7 linked regions of the Homo sapiens genome follow. The protein of the gene in region 4 purifies or fractionates together with the protein of the main gene of each other region. This does not show direct contact. Each region holds a gene or a part of one and is shown on either strand. Other genes may lie near its edges. The genes, in order: PDIA6, TNS3, EIF4H, MAT2B, SEPHS1, GMDS and MICALL2.

The links.
Region 1: the proteins of MAT2B (region 4) and PDIA6 fractionate together in Homo sapiens (co-fractionation; one large-scale study listed by BioGRID). This does not show direct contact.
Region 2: the proteins of MAT2B (region 4) and TNS3 fractionate together in Homo sapiens (co-fractionation; one large-scale study listed by BioGRID). This does not show direct contact.
Region 3: the proteins of MAT2B (region 4) and EIF4H fractionate together in Homo sapiens (co-fractionation; one large-scale study listed by BioGRID). This does not show direct contact.
Region 5: the proteins of MAT2B (region 4) and SEPHS1 fractionate together in Homo sapiens (co-fractionation; one large-scale study listed by BioGRID). This does not show direct contact.
Region 6: the proteins of MAT2B (region 4) and GMDS fractionate together in Homo sapiens (co-fractionation; one large-scale study listed by BioGRID). This does not show direct contact.
Region 7: the proteins of MAT2B (region 4) and MICALL2 purify together in Homo sapiens (co-immunoprecipitation; one large-scale study listed by IntAct). This does not show direct contact.

The regions. Positions count from the first base shown.
Region 1 is NC_000002.12:10,788,786-10,792,285, forward strand, and holds part of PDIA6 (protein disulfide-isomerase A6 isoform d precursor), read right to left. Parts: intron 3,141-3,500; coding exon 3,010-3,140; intron 2,049-3,009; coding exon 1,934-2,048; intron 1,105-1,933; coding exon 964-1,104; intron 197-963; coding exon 112-196; intron 1-111. UniProt on the Homo sapiens protein: May function as a chaperone that inhibits aggregation of misfolded proteins. Negatively regulates the unfolded protein response (UPR) through binding to UPR sensors such as ERN1, which in turn inactivates ERN1 signaling.
Region 2 is NC_000007.14:47,572,112-47,575,611, forward strand, and holds part of TNS3 (tensin-3), read right to left. Parts: intron 1-3,500. UniProt on the Homo sapiens protein: May act as a protein phosphatase and/or a lipid phosphatase. Involved in the dissociation of the integrin-tensin-actin complex. EGF activates TNS4 and down-regulates TNS3 which results in capping the tail of ITGB1.
Region 3 is NC_000007.14:74,184,356-74,187,855, reverse strand, and holds part of EIF4H (eukaryotic translation initiation factor 4H), read right to left. Parts: intron 246-3,500; coding exon 58-245; intron 1-57. UniProt on the Homo sapiens protein: Stimulates the RNA helicase activity of EIF4A in the translation initiation complex. Binds weakly mRNA.
Region 4 is NC_000005.10:163,512,119-163,515,618, reverse strand, and holds part of MAT2B (methionine adenosyltransferase 2 subunit beta), read right to left. Parts: coding exon 3,423-3,500; intron 2,065-3,422; coding exon 1,950-2,064; intron 1,778-1,949; coding exon 1,625-1,777; intron 1-1,624.
Region 5 is NC_000010.11:13,331,294-13,334,793, forward strand, and holds part of SEPHS1 (selenide, water dikinase 1), read right to left. Parts: intron 2,679-3,500; coding exon 2,524-2,678; intron 1-2,523. UniProt on the Homo sapiens protein: Synthesizes selenophosphate from selenide and ATP.
Region 6 is NC_000006.12:1,927,606-1,931,105, forward strand, and holds part of GMDS (GDP-mannose 4,6 dehydratase), read right to left. Parts: intron 2,626-3,500; coding exon 2,498-2,625; intron 1-2,497. UniProt on the Homo sapiens protein: Catalyzes the conversion of GDP-D-mannose to GDP-4-dehydro-6-deoxy-D-mannose.
Region 7 is NC_000007.14:1,435,471-1,438,970, forward strand, and holds part of MICALL2 (MICAL-like protein 2), read right to left. Parts: coding exon 3,370-3,500; exon of another isoform or gene 2,884-3,369; coding exon 2,819-2,883; intron 2,751-2,818; coding exon 2,627-2,750; intron 2,511-2,626; coding exon 2,420-2,510; intron 2,139-2,419; coding exon 2,065-2,138; intron 1,387-2,064; coding exon 1,272-1,386; intron 1-1,271. UniProt on the Homo sapiens protein: Effector of small Rab GTPases which is involved in junctional complexes assembly through the regulation of cell adhesion molecules transport to the plasma membrane and actin cytoskeleton reorganization.

The sequences.
Region 1 (3,500 bases), on a different chromosome or scaffold from region 4:
AAGTTTTTTAAAGGTAAAGATAAAGGAGTCCATAAAATTAATCCATTTAGAAAGTATTCTCAGAGCATCTAGCATAGAACAGCTAAGGGAAATCATTTCCGTCTGTCTTACCAGTATCAAGGATATGGGGCAGCACAGCCACAACACAGAGCTGGTGCTCCTCACACGTCCTCTTGGCAATGTCCTCGTTGATAATCTGTGGGACCCAAAAGACAAGGGACAATCAGGAGGCTGCATGATACAACACCTAAAGGTAAGCTGGCAAACAAGACCTTCGCACCGTCACTTTCATTGAAAACATTTCTCCCACGACTACTTCCTCGTATGGAAACACCTGGAGGCATGTTCTCTAAGAGGAGATTTTTCTGCTACTGATTCTTAAGCCTGTGGAAGCTGTGGTGGTGGAGGTGGGGTGATTAGCACACATACAAACATCTCTGAAATCGCAATGCCTGGACACAGCCTGGCTCTGCCACTTACTTGTTTAAATAGATTATACTTACATGTATTATATGTCTTATATGTTTATACACACTTGAGGCTCTGTGCCTCAATTTCCCCATATATAAAATGGAGATTAAAAACAGTATCTACCTCTCAGTGTTCATGTGAGAATTAAATGAAAACAAAACAAAACAAAACAAAACTATACAAAGACACCAGAACGGTGCCTGTTACATGATTAGTACTTGATAAATGTTCTATTACTTTGAGAATGATAAGCAAGAGTGATTGAATACACTCTATCTTTAAGAAGCTCGTATTTCTGTTCAGTGTAATTATTCTAATGCTAAAAGTTATGAAAAGCAATTTATCAGACTTTTTTTCCATTTCAAAGTATAGAAACCACTTTAAAGAGAGTATCTTTAAGGGCATAAAATGAACAGTGTGTCACACTGCTTTAACATTCCTCACCATCAGCTAAAAAAGCTTTCTGGACTACAAGCAGTTGAAGTGGTTTACCTCAAGCAGCTCAGGAGGTGGGGCGTTATCAGAAAACAAATCAAGGGCCCGGGACACGATGTCGGATCTTGTCCGCCCACCGTCATAATCCACAGGAGACTCGCCTTTCTGAAATATCTTGATTGTAGGAAATCCTCTAATCTATTAAAAAAAGGTCAGAGGATAAAATCCAATTAACACTTAATGCAAAATAACACAATCTTTACAGTTTCTAAAACCACCTTATAGGTAATTTTTTTTTTTTTTTTTTGAAGCAGTCTCACTCTGTTGCCCAGGCTGGAGAGCACAGGTGCAATCTCAGCTCACTGCAACCTCTGCCTCCTGGGTTCAAGCAATTCTCCTACTTCAGCCTCCTGAGTAGCTGGGACTGCAGGCACACACCACCACACCCGGCTAATATTTGTATTTTTAATAGAGACGGGGTTTCACCATGTTGGCCAGGCTGGTTTTGAAATCCTGGCCTCAAGTGATCCTTGGCCTCCCAAAGTGTTGGGATTACAGGTGTGAGCCACCACTCTGGCCTTATAGGTAATTTAATGTAACAAAACTGTTCTCCAGACTGCACAGATTTCAAAGGAATGACTCACAGAGGTCAATTATCAATCAGGGAGTTTTAACAGTCTGTGAAGTTTAGCCAATCATATTCAAGCCCTGGTATATAATTAACACAAAGTACCTGCCCTAGAACAAATGGACCAACTCACAACAGCCATATGAGCAACTTGAATAAGTCTGGGCAAGCTGAAACCTCACATTAAGTATATACCAGAAGCAGTGTGACATTAGGGGGAAAAGTTGACAGTCCTGAGTTTCAGACTTGTTAGTTATGACAATAAAGTGACTTTATCTCTTCACTTACAAAATGGTTTAAACATCTCCTTTACTACCTCATAGGGAGGCCTGGAGTATTGGAAGAAGTAACGAAACACCATGTATTTCACAATGAAATGAGCCTTATAAGTATACTCACCCCGTATCGGGAGGCCAGAACCTGATTGACTGTAGCATCCACAGCTGCCAGTTTCACTTTTCCTTTCGTCTGCTCTTTTACTTCTGAAGCTGCGGCAGCCCACTCTGGCTCTAGGCTATAGAAAAATATTCGTTTTGTTTTGTTTCTTTGAGACACAGTCTCTCTCTGTTGCCCAGGCTGGAGTGCAGTGGTGCAATCATGGCTCCCTGCAGCCTCAATCTCCTGGGCTCAGGTGATCTCATTTCAGCCTCCAACATAGCTGGGACTACAGGTGTGTGCCACCACCCACTGTTAATTTCTACATTTTTAGTAGAGATAGGGTTTCCCCATGTTGCCCAGGCTGGTCTCAAACTCCTGGCCTCAAGTGATCCACCTCACCAGGCCAAATACTTGCATTTTAACTTGCAGCCCAAACACCTTTCTTTTCTTTTCTTTTTTTTTTTAAGACAGAGTCTCCTTCTATTATCCAGGATGGAGCGCAGTGGTGTGAGCTTGGCTCACTGTAGCCTCTGCCTCCCACAATCAAGAGATTCTTGCACCTCAACCTCCCAAGTAGCTGGGACTACAGGCACACGCCACCACACCCAGCCAATTTTTTTGTATTTTTAGTAGACATGGGGTTTTGCTATGTTGCCCAGGCTGGTCTCAAAGTCCTGACCTCAAGTGATCCGCCTGCCTCGGCCTCCCAAAGAGCTAGGATTACAGGTGTGAGCCACCATGCCTAGCCTATACTTTTTAACTGATCTGTGCATTTCTGCCCAATCCCCAATTATGTCACACCTAGAAAACATTTTGTGTGTGGCTTTACTAAAGATACAATGCTACCCTTCACATGAGCTTCCCATTCCACCACTGCCCCTAAATCCAGACATGAGCCAGTCCCTTGTTAATCTTTGGCAATAGGAGAGTGGAAGCTCTTGGCGCTAATGTCAATGTTTAATATTCACTTAGAGTCAGAGTTTTGCTGGAAGAGATCTTAGTGGTGATCTATTATCTACTTCAGCTCTTTCAAAATAAGCTAATGAATGTACTGAAAACACTGTGAATGAACAGACTACTTAGTAGAAGGCACTTACTTTTTGCAGTGTCCACACCAAGGAGCATAGAACTCAACCATCCAAACATCTTCACTGTCCAGAACATTCTTATCAAAGCTGTCGTCTGTCAGCTCAATCACATCCTTCTTACTTGAACTATCACTTCTGCCCTGTCATTTATGACATTAAACATCAAACAATTGGGCCAAGAAGAACACTTTTCCTGTTTTAAATAATAACACTACTGCTACATCTTAACAAAGTTTTAGGGTTTTTCTTTAGTGAATAAAATAGTGAAAACGGTTGTATTCAAATTGGGTACATTCCTCAGCACTGTAATTTTTGCTTGGCAAATAGTCTTTTACTTTCAAGTAATTATCAATACATTCAGTACAACACATAACCTGTACCTGAATGCTGTCACCAGCTATTTTTAGAGAGAAACCTCAACATGGCTCAAAAAACCACCTGAACAACACTGTTCTAATTCAGACTCAAGTACAGCTGCTGCTTCATCCTAGGATGTTATG
Region 2 (3,500 bases), on a different chromosome or scaffold from region 4:
ACAAGCTGAGCTGATGTGGAATGGGCATGTTCTAAAAGAAGCAGCACTGACAAACATCTTTTACTCACAAATAGCCCGGCAGCCGAGGGACCATTTGGAGTAAGGCCATCCCTCCAGGGCGTTCTGAGAAGTCACTACAGTCATAAATGGGAGGGTGACACCCAGAGACCGGCAACGGCAACGCCTAGGTCGGGATCCAGGTTTGGGAGAACCATTCGCGCGGTAGTCACACACACACTATGCTTCTCACGCCCACTGCTGCAAACACCTTCGTGGGAAGAGGAAAATGAATGATCGTGTGTTCTGTTATCCTGTGAGAAGAGTGAGCCTTTAAAAAGTGAATAAACACCATTCCAGTTGTCGCAAAATCTCTACTAATAATAAGCAAAATGCCTTAAAAGCACAGTATGCTCTCGATGACCTATGTTTTGGATTATTCCTATTTAATGGAGGTGGGGGTGGGGAGTTAAAGAGCAACACATGATCGGGTGCAGTGGCTAAGGCCTGTAATCCCAGCACTTTGGGAGGCCGAGGCGGGCAGATCGCCTGAGGTCAGGAGTTCGAGACCAGCCTGGCCAACATGGTGAAACACTGTCTCTACTAAAAATACAAAAATTAGCGGGGCGTGGTGGCACACGTCTGTAGTCCCAGCTATGGAGGCTGAGGCAGAAGAATTATTTGAACCCGGGATGGGGAGGTTGCAGTGAGCTGAGATCGTGCCTGGGCGACAGAACGAGACTCCGTCTCAAAAAAAAAAAAAAGAGCAAAACATAGCAACTCTGTGTGTTGCGGGTTACCTGTCTCACTCAAATTTTTCATCAGAATAATCTGGTTACACCTGAATCCTTGCCAGTGGAAAATGAGAAAGGCCTCACAGGGATATGTGGGGAGTTGCCACCAGGGCTGCCCCAGAAATCAAGGGTCACGTGTGGCCCAGGCTTGGGAAAACATTTCTCAAACCACGTGGTCCCAATGCAGGCTGGATCTCCAGAGGTGGGGCCCACCCACCAGTCCTTCCCTCGGAAAGAGACCACGGCCCCAAGGACTGAAGCCCAACCAAGTAACTTAACTATTCATTATGCTAATATGCCCTTTGTTGAGGACCCAGGAGCCAACGCCCTGATACAAGCCAGCAGGGCAATGCCTTCACCCACCTCACGAGCAAGCCTATTCTTCCCTTATGGGCTGTGCTCTTGGAAATTTCTGTGCAGACTCTCTCCACCTCCCACCCTGGGGACACCCTGCCGCCCTCCACGCTGCCTCCCACCAGCCCGCTAGGTCGCTGGGGCATTGGTCTCAAATCTACAAGCGCCATGGAAAGTTGTCCAGGGCTTTGCCACAGTTCTCCGAAAGGGTGAAACACCCTACCTTGTGTCTTTGTATTCTTCTTTGCCTTCTGCAAATCCCCTTTGCTACTCCAGAACACAGCAGGTGGCCCTGCCCAGGGCCTCTGCCCACGCTGCCCCTCCATCGCGACGGGTCCTTCTGCAAAGTCGCCCAGGATTTAGTCCCTCACCTCCCCCAGCCCAGCATCCTCTTGGAAAGAAACACCAGTTGACTCCAGATAGAGCAACCCACCACCCCGTCTCTGGGCCTGCAGGCCTGCCCGGCCAGGGACCTCAAGTAATCCAGAGGAGAAACATTAGGATGAGTCTGCCTCCTCCTTGAGCCCCCAAATCCCACCAATTCTGCAAATGCCCACGTTGGAAAAGATGCCAGTAATTCTGGTTCAACATGTTCCAAGGAGGGGAAAACGACAGCCTGCTGTTGACATTCCTGATTTGGAATTGTGAACACATTCTTAGAGGGTAAAAATTAACCACCATCAGTTGGGGAAGGCATTATGGGGAGGGCATTATGGCTGCACTTCAAGGACTGATCACAAGAACCGCCTCACTCCAACTGCCCAGGGCCTGCATCGACGTTTTAACAGAGCCAAACCAGAGCGAGCCCAGTTCTGGACCGTTCCCTCAGAAAAGCAGCCGAGGAAACCCTGAGTAATTGCACTCATAGATCATAGGCTCTGGCATGTGGTTCCCAGACTGAACCATTTATCCAAATTAAAACCATTCTCCAGAAACAAAATCAGACCCTTTTAATTGAAAATAAAACCAAGCAACCCCGAAGGCTCTTTTTTTTTTAAATGAAAGACATTCTTCCTGCTTTCTCATCCCATTAATCACAGAGTTTACACAATCTGTCAAAATAGCTTGGTAAGAAGTCTCCCTCTTCCTTTTCCTGCAGGCCTGGTTTTTACCCTGGGGGTGATAACCTAGCCATGTTTAAGGACAGCGGGTGGACACCGTGAGAATCCAGCCAGCACCCTATGTCTCAACTGCAATTTGACCATATATACTAAGGAGTTCCAAAAAGCTTGTGCTCACCAAAAAAAAAATGGAAAGCAGGGACTTATACACCCATGTCCATAGCAGCATTATTCACAACAGCCGAAGGGTAGAAGTAACTGAAGTGTATCAACAGATGAATGGATAAACAAAATGTGCTATTCATACAGACACACACACACACACACACACCCCCACACACACGGTATTATTCAGCCTTAAAAAGAGAGAAATCGTGACACATGCTACAACATGGATGAAACCTTGAGTACAGTATTCTAAGTGAAATAAACAAATCACAAAAAATACAAATACTGTATGATTCCACTTGTATGAGGCACCCGATGTAGTCCGTTTCACAGGGACAGAAAGTAGAATGGTGGTTGCCAGGGACTGGGGGGAGGGGAACATGGGGAGTTAGTGCTTAAGGGACACCGAGTTTCAGTTCTGCAAAATGGAAAGAGTTCTGGAGCTGGAGGGTGGTGATGGCTGCACAACGTGAAGGTTCTTAATGTCGCCTAACTGCCGCAGTTAAACATGATTAAAACGACAAAGTTCATGTTATGCATGTTTTACCAAAGCTTAAAAAAAAAGATGTTTGTATTCTTTGATGCCAAAGAGTCTGCTAGAAATCCTTTCAAGAGCATGACTAGCTACGATCTGCCCAAAGACCTATGTGCAAGCATAACACAGGATGTAAATGATCAATGAACAAATAGTGAAGTCCAAATATCATGGTACATCCACATACTGGAGTACTATACTGTCATCAGCAGTCATATTTATGCAGAGCTATTTCTGGATTGGGAAATGCTTATACTGCCACATTGACTTTAAAATGCAGGATACAAAATAATACATATGGTATGATCTCAGCTTGGTAAATTAAAAAAGCACAGAAAACATATGGCACACAAGAAGGCTAAAATATGAACCTCTGTGGAGGTGATATTAGAAGGAATTTTTTCCTTTTTCCTTAGCATTTCTCTATCTTTTCCAAGTCTACAATGAGCACATATTACAAGAAAACTATTTTGTAGAAAAATAGTCAAAAAGCAAATTAAGAAGCAAAGATACGGCCGGGCGCGGTGGCTCACGCCTGTAATCCCAGCACTTTGGGAGGCCGAGGAGGGCGGATCATGAGGTCAGGAGATC
Region 3 (3,500 bases), on a different chromosome or scaffold from region 4:
CTTCCCATCCTCCCCTACACTTTACAGTAATATACAATAAGAATCCCCCAAACTCACCTTTAAATTTATCTGTGTCTTTGTCTCTGACTAGCCGTACACTCCTTATGCTGAGATCCTTAAAGATAGCATCTATGTCGCCCTGAACCGTATTGAAAGGTAGATTTCCTACGTATGCTGTGTAGGGGGGCTCTGTGGGCAACTCCTTCTGGCTACGGGAACCATGGCCACCAGCACTGCCGCGGGACCTAGGAGGGGAGACAAACAGGATTCAAGTGTGCCCAGAGTGGAATAAGCAAAACAAGTAAAGCGGTCTTCCGCTGAGCTACGCCGCCAGCGCCCCAGGTGAGGCACTCTGCTCGATGTACCACAAGACTGTTACAGAGAATGGCTGGAGAAACAAAAAAAAAGGAAAAGAAAAATTTTTTGAGACAGACTGTCACTCTGTCACCCAGGCTGGAGTGCAGTGGCACAATCTTGGCTCACTGGAACCTCTGCTTCCCGGGTTCAAGAGATTCTCCTGTCTCAGCCTCCTAAGGATGCTGAGATTACAGGCATGTGCCACCACACCTGGCTAATTTGTGCATTTTTAGTAGAAACAGGGTTTCACCATGTTGGCCAGGCTGGTCTCCAACTTCTGACCTCAGGTGGTCTGCCTGCCTCACCCTCCCAAAGTGCTGGGATTACAGGTGTGAGCCACCATGCCCAGCCCAAACGTAACACACCTTCCTAAGACAACTGCTTCTCTCCTATTCACTCAGAATCTGTATCTGCAGTATTTACATCCTAAAACCTAAGCAAGTACCCTCCTTCACACACCGTGGTTCTAAGAAATACAGAAATGGACAGTCTAGAAGTAATGTTGTATTCAGAAGAAGGATTACTGAAGTTGTTTACGTTTAACACATTCATACATAATAGAATTATTTCTCCTACCGCTTGAACCTGGGAAGCGGAGGCTGCAGTGAGCCAAGATCGCACCACTGCACTTCAGCTCACGCGACAGAGACTCCGTCTCAAAAAAAAAAAAAAAAAAAAAAAAAAAAAAAAAAAAAAAAAAAAAAAAAAAATTTCTCCTTGTTGCCTGATTATGGGCATAAGAATGTCCTAATAAAAATTTTAGATGTCACACAGCAAGTACTGACGTACCTAACACTCTCGTGCAATACTTCACAGGGTCCTCAAATACATGCGTATGGCGTGCATTACCAATCCATTTCAACCTCGATGTCATCTCCTCAGCTGTATCAAGCGTCGTTTACTCTGCATAGGTATTGGTTTAAATCTAGCCTCTGTCACTTACTAGCATATGACCTTGAGAAGTTATTCAACTTCTCTAAGCTTTATTTTATTTGTAAAACTGAGTTAATCCTAATACAGCATTTTGGGAGGCCGAGGTGGGTGGATCACTTGAGGTCAGGAGTTCAAGATCAGCCTGACCAATGTGGTAAAACCCTGTCTCTACTAAAAATACAAAATTAGCTTGGTGTGGTGGTGCATGCCTGTAATCCCAGCTGCTGGGCAGGCTGAGGCAGGAGAATCGCTTGAACCCAGGAGGTGGAGGTTGTAGTGAGCCCATTGCACTCCAGCCTGGGCGACAGAGCGAGAGTCCATCTCAAAAAAAAAAAAAAGACATCAGAATATAGTATAAATAGATTATTATATTAAACGATATTTGCCATAAGAATGCCCCAGGAACGACTTAAAGTCGTTAGAAGTGAAGTGCCAAGATGGCCAACATTTGTTTTCAAGCAGGTCAGCATAAAGGGCATGTGTGCCGGTATACAGCAAGGATTCAGCAAACAAGGCAGAATAGTCACTTCTGCATCCACTAGCGTCATCCAACTGTACCATTATTTCAACCTTATTGTAGATTTGAAAATTTCCAAAATAAAACGTTTGGAAAACTCAGGAGGAAAAAAAAATTAAGGGGGTGATTTTTTTTTGAAACAGACATTTAACCCATTTCCTGTTTGCTCCAAGAATACCGTGCTGGCAGCCAACTGCAGTTTTTTTTTCTAAACGGGAAATGCGTTCAAATAAATGAGATCCTTCACAACAACCCAAGACCTGCCCAAAGTCACCCTCTTTGCAGGGGAAATATTAATATCCATCTTAGAGAGCAACCTGGTCTTTCATCTACATACTGCCAGAAACACAATGGAAATTCCACTTCTTCCTGAAGATAAATTCCAGGTGTCTTGCAGACAAATATTATTCATTAAAGCATTTTTCTAAAGTAGAAGGGTCAACCAAGCTGTGATGATTCTTTGATGGTTAAAAAAAAAAAAGCTTTTAAGTTTCATAATTCACAATTCCGGTACTTTCCAATAGGAAGTTCCACGTTCTGTTCTAAGACCACCAGAAAATAGGTTTACAAGTGAATTGCATCCTACCTGCCCACTTCTCCCATCTTTTCGGGCCTAGTAAATGTGACTTACTTTGCATTTCAATAACCTTTGCCAATAGTACTCTATCGCTGATATCTCCGAAATCATAAATCCTAAAATATTTTCAGTAAGATACTATTTAGGACGGGATAATAAATATATGAGTTACAGTATAAAGCCGGGCCCAGTGGCTCATGCCTGTAATCCCAACAGTTTGGGAGGCTGAGGCGGGAGGATCACTTAAAGCCAGGAGTTCAAGACCAGCCTGGGCAACACAGTAAGACCCCATCTCTATAAAAAATACAAAAAATTAGCCGGGAGTGATGGTCCACACTTGTAGTCCCAAGCTACCTGGGAGGCTGAGGTGGGAGGATCACCTGAGCCCAGGAGGTTGTTGCTGCAGTGAACTGTGATGGCACCACTGCACTCCAGCCTGGGTGACAGAAGGAGACTGTCTCCAACTGAAGAAACAACAACAACAACAAAAAGGCGGGGCACAGTGGCTCATACCTGTAATCCCAGCACTTCGGGAGGTCAAGGTGGGTGGATCACTTGAGGCCAGAAGTTCAAGACCAGCCTGGCCAACATGGTAAAACTCCGTCTCTACTAAAAATACAAAAACTAGCCAGGTGTGGTAGCACACACTTGTAATCCCAGCTACTTCAGAGGCTGAGGTGGAGCTTGCAGTGAGCTGAGACTGTGTCACTGCGCTTCAGCCTGGGCTACAGAGCGAGACTCCATCTCAAAAAAACAAAAACAAAAAAACACAAAAAACAAACAAAAAAGCACAAAAAACAACAACAAAACCAAACAAACAAAAAACAAGATACAGTATAAACATGTGGAAAACCATAAAAATGGAGGGTCAATGTTAAAAACAGTTTAAATTCATTACTCAACATTAAACATCTAGTGATGCGTAATGATGTTAAAAGACTGTCTTGTATGTAAGCAGCTCACAGTTGTGTGGGACGTATAAAACACATGTATATATGCAGGTATGTTTGTGTGTATGAATGTGTAACATATACATAAAAACTAAAAAGGAGGGTGAGGATGAAGAGAGATGATAAACTCTCGGGTGTTTGATGTAGTTGCTAAGTAAGGAAAATG
Region 4 (3,500 bases):
AAAATAAAAGCAATAAAGGACATTTTTGGCATAAATGAGAAAATTCCTAAATAGATTTGTATTTGATTACAGTACCATATTAATGTTAAGTTTCCAAATGTATGATAACTGCACTGTAATTATGTGAAGAACATTCTTCTTGTTAGAAGATAAAAGAAAGGTAAAGTATTTGGAGATGAAATTCAACTAATTATCAATGGGTCTGGCAAAAGCAAACATATAAAACAAATGTGACAAAACATCAACAATTTGTGAATCTATGTGAAGGGTATATGAGTGTTCACATTAGTTTTACAACCACTCATTAATATTTAGATTTTATAATGGTCCCTGCTGATGGTATACAATAGTTAACACTTTAACTGCAAATCAAACATTTTCTTTTAAATTACATGACAAGAGAACTTAGATACTGCTATGGTTTGAATGTTTTTGTCCTCTCCAAAAATTCATGTTGAAACTTAATCCACGAAGCAACAGTGCTGGGAGGTGGGGCATTTTGGGAGGTGTTTAGGTGGTCATCAGCACTCTGCTCTTATGAATGGATTAATGCCATTATAAAAGGACTTGAAGGAAGAAGCACATCCCTTTCTGCTCTTCTGCCGTGAGAACACAGCATTCCTCCCCTCCAGAGGACCAGAAAGACCCTCACCTTGATCTTGGACTTCTCAGCCTCTAGAACTGTGTGAAATAAATTTCTGTTCTTTATAAATTACTGAGTTGTTGGTATTCTGTTATAGCAGCACGAAATAAACTAAGACAAATGTATTCAAGGATGATTTCAACAGAATAATTTATAATACAAGAAAACTTTTTAAAAAACTAAATGTCCATTAGTAAGGTATTCTACACTAGGGCTGCTTCTCAAGGCCATAGTACAGTCTAAGGCAGTAGTTTTAGTGCAGGGGACCATTAAATTAAGTACTACGCAGCCACTGATAGGAGTAAGATATCCCAGAGTAGGTTCCATGTGTACTAAAATGCAAAGATGTTGAGGGAAAAAAAACAGGTTGTGAAACAACATGCATACATTTTTTGAAAATATATAAAAATGCTTCCACACTTAACCATATTTGGTGTTTATCTCCCTGAGGCAGCATTTATGAGAACTTTTGTTCTTAGTAATTTTACATTTTTTCTAAGGAGTGTATACTTTTTATATATGGAGATGTGTGTTATACACAAACTCACATACAGGAAAAAAGAAACACCATAATAGAATGTTAATACATACAACATACATATAACAGAATACATAAAAACAAAATACATACACATATAACACAGTAACATACATATAACAGAATACATAAACAGAATATCTCACTCTAAGAGAAATTATACTGCCCTGTTTTTTGAAAATGAGTTACAAAAGCTTGTATTACCTGACTTGTTTTCTATGTGTAAAGATGAATATGTAAACACTGATAGTGGAAACTGTCTTGAAGGATTCACAAAGTAGTTATCTCTTAGAATTTTTTATTTTCTTTATTAACTATATTCTAATTTTTCTCTAATGATTCATATTCATTGACTTTTTAAATTTAAAACATATATATGTGTATGTATAAATGATTTTTAAAGTCTTCAAAAACAATCAGGGGCTAAATAGATTAGGTCTTACCTAGATTGTTCTCCAGGACAGCCTTTTCTCCATCTAATTTTGTTTTGCCATACAAATTTAGGGGAGCTGGTATGTCTTCCTCTCTGTAAGGTGGATTTGTTCCATCAAATACATAATCTGAGCTAATGTAGATGAGAAATGCTCCAACAGCAGCTACAAAAAAAGAAGACAAATCTATTAAATGTTTACATGACATTACTCTTTCATGGAATTTAGAATGGTTTTTCATGATATATAAAAACAAATAACCATCTACAAAACCTTAATTTCTAAAAACTCAGCAATCACTTAATATTTTATGAAAATTTTATAAAGTCATCATTACCTGCTTCCTTTGCTAAATTCCCAGAAGCATCCACATTAAGTTGAGAGGCAGCATCTGGCTGATTTTCTACAACATCTGGTCTTCTCTCTGCTGCACAATGTACTATAACATGGGGCTAGAAGTTAAGCATTGACGTATTTTTAACTCAAAATAAAATGAAAGAGGTATTACAGCCTTCTTAAAGTTAATTCAGAGAAAAATGTGCAGTAAGTCAACATTCTTTCAACTAAGAATAAATCATTGTAATTTCTAATGTAGTTTTGTCATGCTGCTTCTTTTCCCCGCAAGGTTCAAACTTAAAATATTTATAGGCACTGAAAAGAGTATTTCATAATATGCAGACACAAACCAGGAAAAAAACTGTCAACAACTGTATTTCTACTCTGGTGTGACGGTTCATGCATGTAATCCCAACACTTTGGGAGGCTGAGGTGAGACAATGCTTGAGGCCAGGAGTTCAAGATAAGACTAGGCAACATAGTGGTTGGTACTCAATCTCTACAAAAAAATTTAAAAATCAGCCAGTCGTGGTGGCATGAGCCTGTAGTTCTAACTGTTGTGGAGGCCGAGGCAGAAGGATCACTTGAGCCAAGGAATTCAAGGCTACAGTGGGCTGTGATCGATCTACCGTACTTCACCCTGGGCTACAGAGTGAGACCCTGTCTGAAAATAAAACAACCATGTTTCTAGGCTGGGCGCGGTGGCTCAAATCTGTAATCCCAGCACTTTGGAAGGCTGAGGTGGGTGGATCACGTGAGGTCAGGAGTTCAAGACCAGCCTGGCCAACATGGTGAAACCCCATCTCTACTAGAAATACAACAATTAGCCAGGTGTGGTTGCGCATGCCTGTAGTCTCAGGTACTCAGGAAGCTTAGGCAGGAGAATTGCTTGAACCCTGGGAGGCGGAGGCTGCAGTGAGCTCAACTGCACCACTGCACTCCAGCCTGGGCAACAAACCAAGATTACGTCACAAAAACAAGAACAAAACAGAAGTCTTTCTAAATCAAAACAAGTTTTATCCCCCAATTTGGACAAAAGGAAAGAGCTATCATTTATGCAATTAACATGATTTAAATATCTAATAAATCCATGTCAAAGGGAGAATAGTATCAATGATACCGAAAACCTCTCTGAGCCTGCTCCCTCAGCCCTAAAATGAAAATAACTATTTTGCAGTGTTGTGAGGTTTACAGTAACATTTGAAAACCATTTGCAGAGAAAGTATTACTTAGAAGGCACTCTATAAACATAAGCATTTTATAAAATGTCTCATATTTGTCTTTGTCAGCGTGTCAAAATTTAACTTTAAGGTTTACATATACCATGTCATGCTAAATGAAAAAAATGCTACTGCATAATACAACTTTAGAGCTTTCAAACATAGTAATTTCCTTGAGAGCAAGGATAGTTTCTGTATCATCCAGACAACTCTTAATATTGTTCATGTATATCTTAAAATAACCTAAATCATACCTGAAAATCATGAATGATGTGATGAACTGCATTAGAATCCAACAGATTAACCTGTTCAAATTTTGGTCTTGCTCTTCT
Region 5 (3,500 bases), on a different chromosome or scaffold from region 4:
TATGTGTGCATGCGTCTTTACAGCAGCATGATTTATAATCCTTTGGGTATATACCCAGTAATGGGATTGCTGGGTCAAATGGTATTTCTAATTCTAGATCTTTTTTTTTTGAAACTGAGTTTCACTCTGTCACCCAGGCTGGAGTACAGTGGCACGATCTTGGCTCACTGCAACCTCCGCCTCCTGGGTTCAAACCACTCTCCTCAGTCTCCTGAGTAGCTGGGATTACAGGCGCCTGCCATCGTGCCCGGCTAATTTTTTGTATTTTTAGTAGAGACAGGGTTTCACCATGTTGGCCAGGGTGGTCTTGAACTCCTGACCTCAGATGATCCACCCGTCTTGGCTTCCCAAAGTGCTGGGATTACAGGCATGAGCCACCACGCCCGGCCAAAAGACTGACTTTTCTTAACAAGACATCAAACATGGAAAGTGACAACTTGGTTAGGAGAGAAACTTCTCCAAAGAAGATACACAAATGGGTAGTAAGCACATGAAAAGATGCTCGGCCTCATCAGTCATCAGGCAGACACAAATCAAAACCACAAAGACATTCCACTTCACACCCAGTAGGCTGGCTAGAATCCAAAAGACAGACAGGAAAACAAGTACTGGAGGGGTCATAGAGAAATTGGAATCCTCATACATTGCTGCTGGGAACGTAAAATGGCGCAGCCATGTTGGAGACCAGTCTGATGATTCCTCAAGTTAAACATAATTACCACATGACCCAGTCAATTCTTAGGTATACACCCAAGAGACCGGAACTTATGTCCACACAAAAACTTAGAATGTTCATGGCAGCATCATTCCTAATAGGTGGAAACAACCCAAAGGTCCGTCACCTGAGGAATGGCTAAATAAAGCAGGGTCCATCCATGCAATGGATTATACAGCCATGGAAAGGAATGCGATACCGATTCATGCTACAACACGGATGGACCCGGAAAACATTCCGCTATGGGAGTGAAGCCAGACACAGCATGTCATGCTGCACGATTCCATTTCTATACAATGTCCAGAACAGGCAAATCCTTAGAGACAAAAGCACATTCTTGGTTGCCAGAGGATGGGAGCAGGAGGGAAATGGGAGTGAGCTACAGGGCTTCTTTTTGGGGTGATGAAAACATTCTGGAATTGGATAGTGGTGATGGGTGCACAACCTTGTCAATACTAAAAACCAACACATTGTGTACTTCAAAATGCTGAATTCTATGTTATGTGAAATTTTGTTACGTGAATTATACTTCAACTAAAAAACCTAAAATGTCAGCCGGGCGCGGTGGCTCACGCCTGTAATCCCAGCACTTTGGGAGGCTGAGGCGGTCGGATCATGAGATCAGGAGATCGAGACCATCCTGCCTAACATGGTGAAACCCCATCTCTACTAAAAATACAAAAAATTAGCCGGGCATGGTGGCAGGTGCCTGTAGTCCCAGCTACTCGGGAAGCTGAGGCAGGAGAATGGCATGAACCCGGGAGATGGAGCTTGCAGTGAGCCGAGATCATACCACTGCACTCCAGCCTGGGCGACGGAGTAAGACTCCGTCTCAAAAAAAAAAAACAAAAACACCTAAAATGTCTTAAAAATAGGATTAAAATACTGACACATGCTACAAAATAGATGACCCTTAAAAGTATGCTAATACTATGCTAAGTGACAAAATCCAGGATGGAGCAGGAGTGAACAGTGAGAGCCGAGGAGGATGGGGTTTCTTCCTGTAGCAATGAAAACATCCTAACATCAACTCCGGTAATGGCTGTACAACTCTGAGTATACTCCAAACCACTGACTCTTTAAATGGGTGAATGGTATAGTACGCAAATTATATCTTAATACATCTATTTTTTTTTTTTTTTGAGATGGAGTTTCGCTCTTGTTGCCCAGGCTGGAGTGCAGTGGCGCGATCTTGGCTCACTGCAGCCGCAGCCTCCTGGGTTCAAGTGATTCTCCTGCCTCAGCCTCCCAAGTAGCTGGGATTACAGGCATGTACCATCATGCCTGGCTAATTGTGTATTTTTAGTAGAGATGGGGTTTCTCCATGTTGGTCAGGCTGGTCTCAAACTCCCAACCTCAGGTGATCCACCCGCCTTGGCCTCCAAAAGCGCTGGGATTACAGGCATGAGCAACCGCGCCCAGCCTTGCGTTCTTGTCTTTTTTTTTTTTGGAGACAGAATCTTGTTCTGTTGCCCAGGCTAGAGTGCAGGGGCATGATCTCAGCTCACTGCAACCTCCACCCCTGGGGTTCAAGCGATTCTCCTGCCTCAGCCTCCAGAGTAGCTGAAACTACAGGCTTGCCCCACCATGCCTGGCTAATTTTTGTATTTTTAGTAGAGACAGGGTTTCGCCACATTGGCCAGGCTGGTCTCAAACTCCTGACCTCAGGTGATCTGCCCGCCTCGGCCTACCAAAGTCTGGGATCATATGTGTGAGCCACTGCACCTGACCTTAATACATCAATTTTTAAAAAGAGAGGACAGAGAGAGAAAAACAGGTCAGGTGATATGAAACAAAAATCAACTTACATGATAAATTCATTGGGTTGGCAGACAGTGGTAGCCACTCCTCCCAGGACAATCCAGGGGTTTAGTACTGTTTGGCCGCCTGTTACAGATGTTCCTGCTTCCTCAGCTGCGTCTTTAAAACCTTGGATAATCAGAGGCATCACTTTATCCCTTTCCTAAGGTTGAAAAAGGTACAAATAAAAAGTCAAAGAATTCTGTTCAAAACCCAGAAAAGAAGGTTTTTACACTTACAGTTATAAAAAGAACCATAAAATCCTAAAGGAAGTCCTCAAAGTTTACAGACAGGGAAGGTTGTTAGGGGCCAGGCATAATCGCTCACGCCTGTAATCCCAGCACTTTGGGAGTCCGAGGTGGGCAGAGAGCTTGAGCCCAGGAGTTTAAGACCAGTCTGGGCAATGCAGACAGACCCCTTTCTCTACGAAACATGTAAAAATTGCTGGGTGACCGGGCACAGTGGCTCATGCCTGTATTCCCAGCACTTTGGGAGGCTGAGGCGGGCAGATCACCTGAGGTCAGGAGTTTGAGACCAGCCTGGCCAACATGGTGAAACCCCGTCTCTACTAAAAATACAAAAATTAGCCGGGTGTGGTAGCATGCGCCTGTAATCCCAGCTACTTGGGAGGCTGAGGCAGGAGAATCGCTTGAACCTGGGAGGCAGAGGTTGTAGTTAGCCAAGATCGCATCACTGCACTCCAGCCCTGGGCACAAGAGTGAGACTTCATCTCAAAAACAAAAAAAAAAAATATTGCTTGGTGTGGTGGCATGTGCCTGTGGTCCCAGCTATTCCGGAGGCTGAAGTGGGAGGATGTCTTGAGCCCGGGAGGCTGAGGCTGCTGCAGTGAGCTCTCATCACACCACTGCACTCCAACCTGGGCAACACAGGGAGATCTTGTCTCAAAAACAAACAAAAACAAAAGCTAGAAAATATTTCACATTGTCATCATTTTATCCAATGCTGGAAGATGTTCTAGACAACA
Region 6 (3,500 bases), on a different chromosome or scaffold from region 4:
AGATGTGGACTACACTCGCAGCAGCGCTAGCTTGGCATTTGGGAAGTGTTGTGCCCAGATGTGGACTACACTCACAGTGGAGCTAGCTTGGCATTTGGGAAGTGAGATGACAGCAGCGTCCTTCTTTCAGATCTACTCGTTGACACAAGACTTCCTCCTTACTTACTTAACACTCTCATTCATTTTCATGAGACTTTTTGGCCTGTTTCTGAAATGTCACCTCCTACCCCGGCCAATTACAAAGGTTTACACATGTTCATTTAAAATCTATGGAAAATAAAGACAGTATAAAGAAGAAAATAAACACAACCTGTAAAAAGCACTATCAACATTATGGTATACTGTTTCCCTCACTATCAAAATCTATTAGATTTCCGAATCCTTTTTCACCTACGTGCAAAATAATAAAATTGAATGAAATTTAATCGATTTGGTTCCTTGAACTTGGAGAAGAGTTTGGATAAATAATACCTATATAGGGCCAGGTGCAGTGGCTCAAGCCTGTAATCCCGGCACTTTGGGAGGCCAAGGTGGGTGGATCATGAGGTCAACAGATGGAGACCATCCTGGTCAACACAGTGAAACCCCGTCTCTACTAAAAATATAAAAATTAGCTGGGCGTCGTGGTACGCGCCTGTAGTCCCAGCTACTCATGAGTCTGAGGCAGGAGAATCGCTTGAACCCGGGAGGCAGAGGTTGCAGTGAGCCAAGATTGTGCCACTGCATTCCAGACTGGCAACAGAGCGAGACTCTGCCTTAAGAAAAAAAAAAAAAAGAATACCTATAGCTTACTATGTAGCTCTATGCAGATGCTGATGGCTAGAAGGCTAAACAATAAATAGATATTATTGAGAAAATAATGTATTTTTACATAACAAGCCTCATATTTTTCAGTAGGTAAGGTCATTTAGGTTAGACAAAAGAAAGTTTTGGCTTCTCTTGCCAGTATCTACTTTCTCATAATTTCTAAGCGTGAACCTATATATTTTTTGATGTGATGTTCTGAAAATAAATCTAAGGATTAATGTCATAAAATGCTTCTTTGTAATTATAGCTTAGAAGCACATATTTAAAAGATTTAGGCTGGGCACGGTGGCTCATCCCTGTAATCCCAGCACTTTGGGAGGCTAAGGCGGGTGGATCACCTGAGGTCAGGAGTTTGAGACCCGCCTGGTCAAAATGGTGAAACCCCATCTCTGCTAAAAAAACAAAAATTAGTCGGGTGTGGTGGCGCATGCCTATAGTCCCACCTACGCAGGAGGCTGAGGCAGGAGAATCGCTTGAACCTGGGAGGCCGAGGTTGTAGTGAGGCGAAATCATGCCACTGCACTCTAGCCTGAGCAACAGAGAGAGACTCTGTCTCAAAAATAAATAAATAAATAAATAAATAAATAAATAGATCTAAATGTTGCACTATTCAAAATCTAAAGTCAAAGCTAATTATTTTGTGCATAACAGAAATCAGTATTAGCTGTTCAAACACACACACATTTTTTATTGTTATGACCAAAAACAAGATGGCAGGTGAGCCTCATCTCTGCACTAGCAAACAAACTAATTGTTTGCTTTCTTTTGTAGGCATTAAAGTTTCTTTTTGAATTGCATAAATGAACAAGAAAGCTGGGTCCAGTTTCCTAGAGAGACATCATTCAGGACAGAAATAGGCTCATGAGCACAGGAAATCTGTGAGCACTTGAACAAGGACAGGCTACTCCAGGGAAAGGACAATGTCTCTACCATGCTTGCTCATGTCTGACCACAGAACCAACATGGATATTTAAAAGCAGGGAGATCAGGGCAAAGTAAAAGGTAACCATTTGTTTATAAAAGAAAAATCATACTACTTGCGTATGTAATATATGCAAACCCAAAACAGCATGTCTAGGAATGCCAAGAATGAAAATCTGAATTTCCCTTTAACAATATCCATTATTTCACAATAGAATCATTATTAACATCTTTCTCTATCTCTCTTTAATAGGTAAAGCTCAACGACATGCAATATAACATGTTAAGAAGTGTGTGATGTAATAACCAGACTCTTCAGCAGCAGAAAGCAGAGTTCCATAAGAATATTACTCTTGGCGGGACTTAGTAGAATAATGTAAGTCCAAGAATCTTGAATTATATACATTGAAATGAGGCAGTATTTCTAGAAGATCTGAGAACTAGTACTTTTATACCCCCAAAATAAAGAGGAGCACCATTCAAACACTTTTTCCATCTATCTATCCATCATCCAGCACAAATAATTGGAAGAGTATTTGTGAAAGTTTTCCTCATTCAAGTACCATTCAGTGTAAGCTACCTGTACGTCTGAACCACCAATCCCTGAACGACTGATCCCTGAAGTGAAAGCAGCATGAGTGTAAACATACCTGCCTTGGCAAAGGTTTGTATGCCCCCACCTCTAGGTCACACTTTTTCACTGTACGCTTGGCATTTAGAATATCAATGGATACGGGTATTTTCAAGAATGTAATGTGTCAGTTCCTACCTCCACATAGTCCTTGGCATGGCCCCAATCTCGTTTGGCATCCAGATTTCCCAAACTGAAACATTCCAGTTGTCCAAGGTAAATCTTAGCTACTGACCGGCTAATTTTTCGAGTAACGAAATTAGCTCCTAAAAAGAGGCAAAAGATGTAGTATCAGTCAAGTGCACTTGACACATTTAACAGTTTGGTGAACCAAACCCGATTTCGGCCTCTGGGCATTTCTTTCATTCTACACTCCCAGCCACCCTGTTAAAACAATAAAAGAAAAGAAAAAGAGAAAAGATCATTAACTGTCATTTAGACAAGTTAAGAAGCCCTAATTCCATGTGTCACATCAGCTCTACTTTCAGAACAAACGTTTTTCTTTGGGGGACATCTTAACATTCCTAATTTGTTGCTTCAATATGCAACCCAGGCATTAGGCCAAAGAAAAGCTGTTGGAATGCCAGTTTTTAAACAGAAAATTCAAAAGGGTTGTATAAAGGGAAATGCCAGAATGGACGACAGACATCTAAGACCACCCTGATTTTTTTTAAGAACACAAACATCATATATTCCTATTAATAAAGCTACTTTGGGACTCATGGGGAGAGAAAGAAACATAGCTTAGTTCACAGGGTAACTAGTTAAAGGAAACAAGAAAGGAATTTATTTAGGCTGCCTTTCTCTTAACAAAATAAGTGGTGATGGCTCTTATTTAGAAACCTGCACAGCCATCCAAATGATATGATATGGCCCCTGGGCAAAAGTTTCTCTGTACTATACTTAAGGCAATGCCACTTTCCAAATTCATTTCAGTGTTATTTACAGAAAGGGCTCCTAAATTTTGTGTAATATTTTGAAATGATTGGTTGAAAGGGGCCATATCTTGATGAAAGCACTGAAATTGTTTTAATGTTCTCTGGTCTTTAATGAAAACTCTATCTGCTTTTTCAAAGATCACAAAGTTAAAAGGCACTTCTGAGACAGTTTTACCTTGTTATCTAGGTAAGGTTATGAGAAA
Region 7 (3,500 bases), on a different chromosome or scaffold from region 4:
GACCACACCGGTGACCTGGGACAGGAGGGCCTGGGCCGACCACACAGGTGATGTGGGACAGGAGGGCCTGGGCCGACCACACCAGTGACCTGGGACAGAAGGGCCTCGGCCGACCCATGCCAAGGCCCCGTCACGCTCCCAGAGGGTCTCATAGAGGTGGACTTCAGGTGCCGACCCAGAATGCCATGTGCTGGACCCCTCATGAGACGAGACAGGAAAGCTGTCGGGGACAGTCACACAGTCCGTGCAGGAGCCAGGAGACGCACGTGGCCTTGGAAGTTCAAGTTAAAAACTAAGACTTTGGCCGGGCACGGTGGCTCACACCTGTAATCCCAGCACTTTGGGAGGCTGAGGCGGGCGGATCACGAGGTCAGATCGAGACCATCCTGGCTAACATGGGGAAACCCCGTCTCTACTAAAAATCTAAAAAAATTAGCCGGGTGTGGTGGCGGGCGCCTGTAGTCCCAGCTACTTGGGAAGCTGAGGCAGGAGAATGGCATGAACCCTGGAGGCAGAGCTTGCAGTGAGCCGAGATTGCGGCCACTGCACTCCAGCCTGGGCGACAGAGCAAGACTCTGTCTCAAAAAAAAAAATACAAACAACAAAACAAAACAAACAAAAAAAACTAAGACTTTACGGCCAGTTACGGTGGCTCATGCCTGTAATTCCAGCACTTTGGGAGGCCAAGGAGGGCAGATCACCTGAGGTCAGGAGTTCAAGACCAGCCTAGCCAACATGGTGAAACCCCGTCTCTACCAAAAATACAAAAAATTAGCCGGGCATGGTGGTGCGAGCTTGCTACTCAGGAGGCTGAGGCAGGAGAATCGCTTGAACTCGGCAGACGGAGGTTGCAGTGAGCCAAGATCGCACCACTACACTCCAGCCTGGGCAACAGGAGGGAAACTTCGTCTCAAAAAAAACAAAAACAAAAAATTAGCCGGGTGTGGTAGTGTGCGCCTGTAATCCCAGCTACTCGAGAAGCTGAGGCAAGAGAATCATTTGAACCTGGAAGGGACAGGTTGCAGTGAGCCAAGATCGCACCACTGCACTCCAGCCTGGTGACAGAGCAAGACTCTGTCTCAAAAAAAAAAAAAAAAAAGACTTCAAAAAGTCCCCGATGGCCACATGTGGCCCCTGGCTACTGTACCAGTCAGCATAGACAATAACCGCCTGGTCAGAAAGTTCTACGGGGCTGGCTGACCCTGAGGGCCGGGAGCATGGACCAGGCGACCTGGCCTGGCTGGGAGGGGCCCCCGGCACCTGCCCCTCACCGGAGCCGGTCCTCGTCCAGCGAGTCCACGATGTCACTGCGGTCGTTCACGGTGCTCACGTACTGCTCCAGCAGCTCCTGCTCCCGCCGCCGCTCCTGCAGTGACTTCAGAGCCTCTGTGGGGATGGCTCGTCAGCAGGAGCCCCCCCCACCACTGCCATGCCCCTCACAGGACACAATGTCCCCACCACCCAAGCGCCAGGCTCCTCTTTTGGAGGAAGAAGGTGGGGTCTTGGGGGGATCCGGAGCAGAATGAATGAGTGAATAAGTGAATGAAGGAAGGAACGGCCACGTCAGAGCCCGTGTGCTGGGATCCTTCCCCATCATCTCGCAGAAACACCACTCGCTGCAGAGATATGGACACTGAGGCTCAGGGCGTCGCTGTCCCTGCAGCACAGCAAGGAAAGGGCAGAGGCAGACGGCCTGGGCCTGTGCCCTCAGCCAGGGCACCCTGCATCACGAGACAAATGCCTATGGCTCGCCCTGACTGCTGCTACACTAAATGCCTTGTGCGAATTGATTCGTTTAATCCTCACAACAGCTGCGTGAGGTGGGTGCTACAAGCATCCTCACTTTGCAGAGGATGAAACCCAAGCACAGCAAGGTTAAGTACCTTGGCTGAGGACACACAGCCAGGAGGTGGGAGATTTGAAACTCAAACGTGGGCTCGCCTGGCTCCAGGGAAGGTCTCACCACCAGGACAGTCAGGTGGCCTCACAGAGCCGGCCCCCAGACATCCTGGGCTCCGCGGCATCCCTGGCTGGGGCCCCTTGGCTGGCGCGCGGGGGACGCACCGGGCTTGGCCATGAGCCGGCGCAGCTCGCCCTCGATGTCCAGCTGCTGCTCCTCCAGACGCTGGGCCTTGGACCTGCCGCACAGACACGCGTCTGAGGCCTGACTCTGCCGCCCTGTCCCCCGCCTGGCCCGCCCAGCCCGCAACGAGGTCCTGGACCTGCCACACAGACACGAGTCTGAGGCCTGACTCGCCGCCCGTCCCCCGCCTGGCCCACCCAGACCGCAACGAGGTCCTGGACCTGCCGCACAGACATGCATCTGAGGCCTGACTCTGCGCTCCTGTCCCCCGCCTGGCCTGCCCAGCCCGCAACGAGGTCCTGGCCTTCGAGGAGGGGCCCACGGCTGGGCTCTCACTTGTACATCAGCTCTGACTCCTGTCTCAGCAGAAGCTGCTTCTCGTGAATGAGCCAGAACCAGTCCACCATGAGGCTATCCTCAGCGTCATCTGGGGAGAGGAGCCAGCTGGGGCAGGGGGGCCCGCCAGAGTTCATGGCCCCCAGCCCCAGGACTGAGGGTGTCTGTGGGAGTCGGGCTGGCCCAGGGCCAGGCCGAGGCGCTCACCTCCCTCGGCCGCCCGCAGTCGCTTCTCCAGCTCCACGCCGCGGAGCTCCAGGGCGTCCAGCCGCCTCTCGATGTCCTGCAGCTGCCTCTGTATCTCCTCCGGGGAGAGGTAGTCGGGGTGCAGCTGGGAACGGAGGGGCGGTGAGGATGCCGGAGGGCTGGGCCCCTGCCCGGCTCCCCACCACTACTCACCCTGACTGGGGAGGTCACCGTCTCGCCAGGCAGAGCAGGGACATTGGCCGGGGACAAGGGTCTCCCTGGAGAAGGAGCAGGGTGAGCCTCTGGGACCTGGGCCACCAGGCCCAACGTGACCAGGACACAGCTTGGAAGGAGCCTGACCTCAGCACAGCACAGCTGGCCCCAGCCCTGCCTCCCTAATGCCCCACACGCCCACTGGACTGCCCTGACCCAGCCCCACAGACACCTGAGTGGCCTCCAGGCCCAGCCCCACCCTGCACCCTGCCCTCCTCCAGGTCAGCAACACCCCAGCCACCCCAGTCCCTCAAGCTGCCAGAAGCAGACATTCCATCATCACCATGAGTCTGTAACAAGGTACTCTGAAACAGCTAGGGTCTCTATTCATGAGGGCGGGCCTGGGGCACGGGGCTGGGTCCTTCCTCCAGGCTTTCCCTCCATTCTAGGTCCTGTGAATGCATCCTCCAAAGCCCCAGCAGGCATTGCCTCCTCAGAGGAAGGCTCCCTTCACGTACACCCCAAACAGCAGCGGTGTCTCTGGGGCTGACCTGGTTTGCCCTGAAGGTGAGGTTTCTTCTCCTCCTCCTTCCAGCTCTGCACTCGGGCTTCCTGGCCAGGGGGCTCCGGCCGAAGCCAGTTGTCACAAACGTCGAGGCTGGCAGGGACGGCCAGTCTCCTG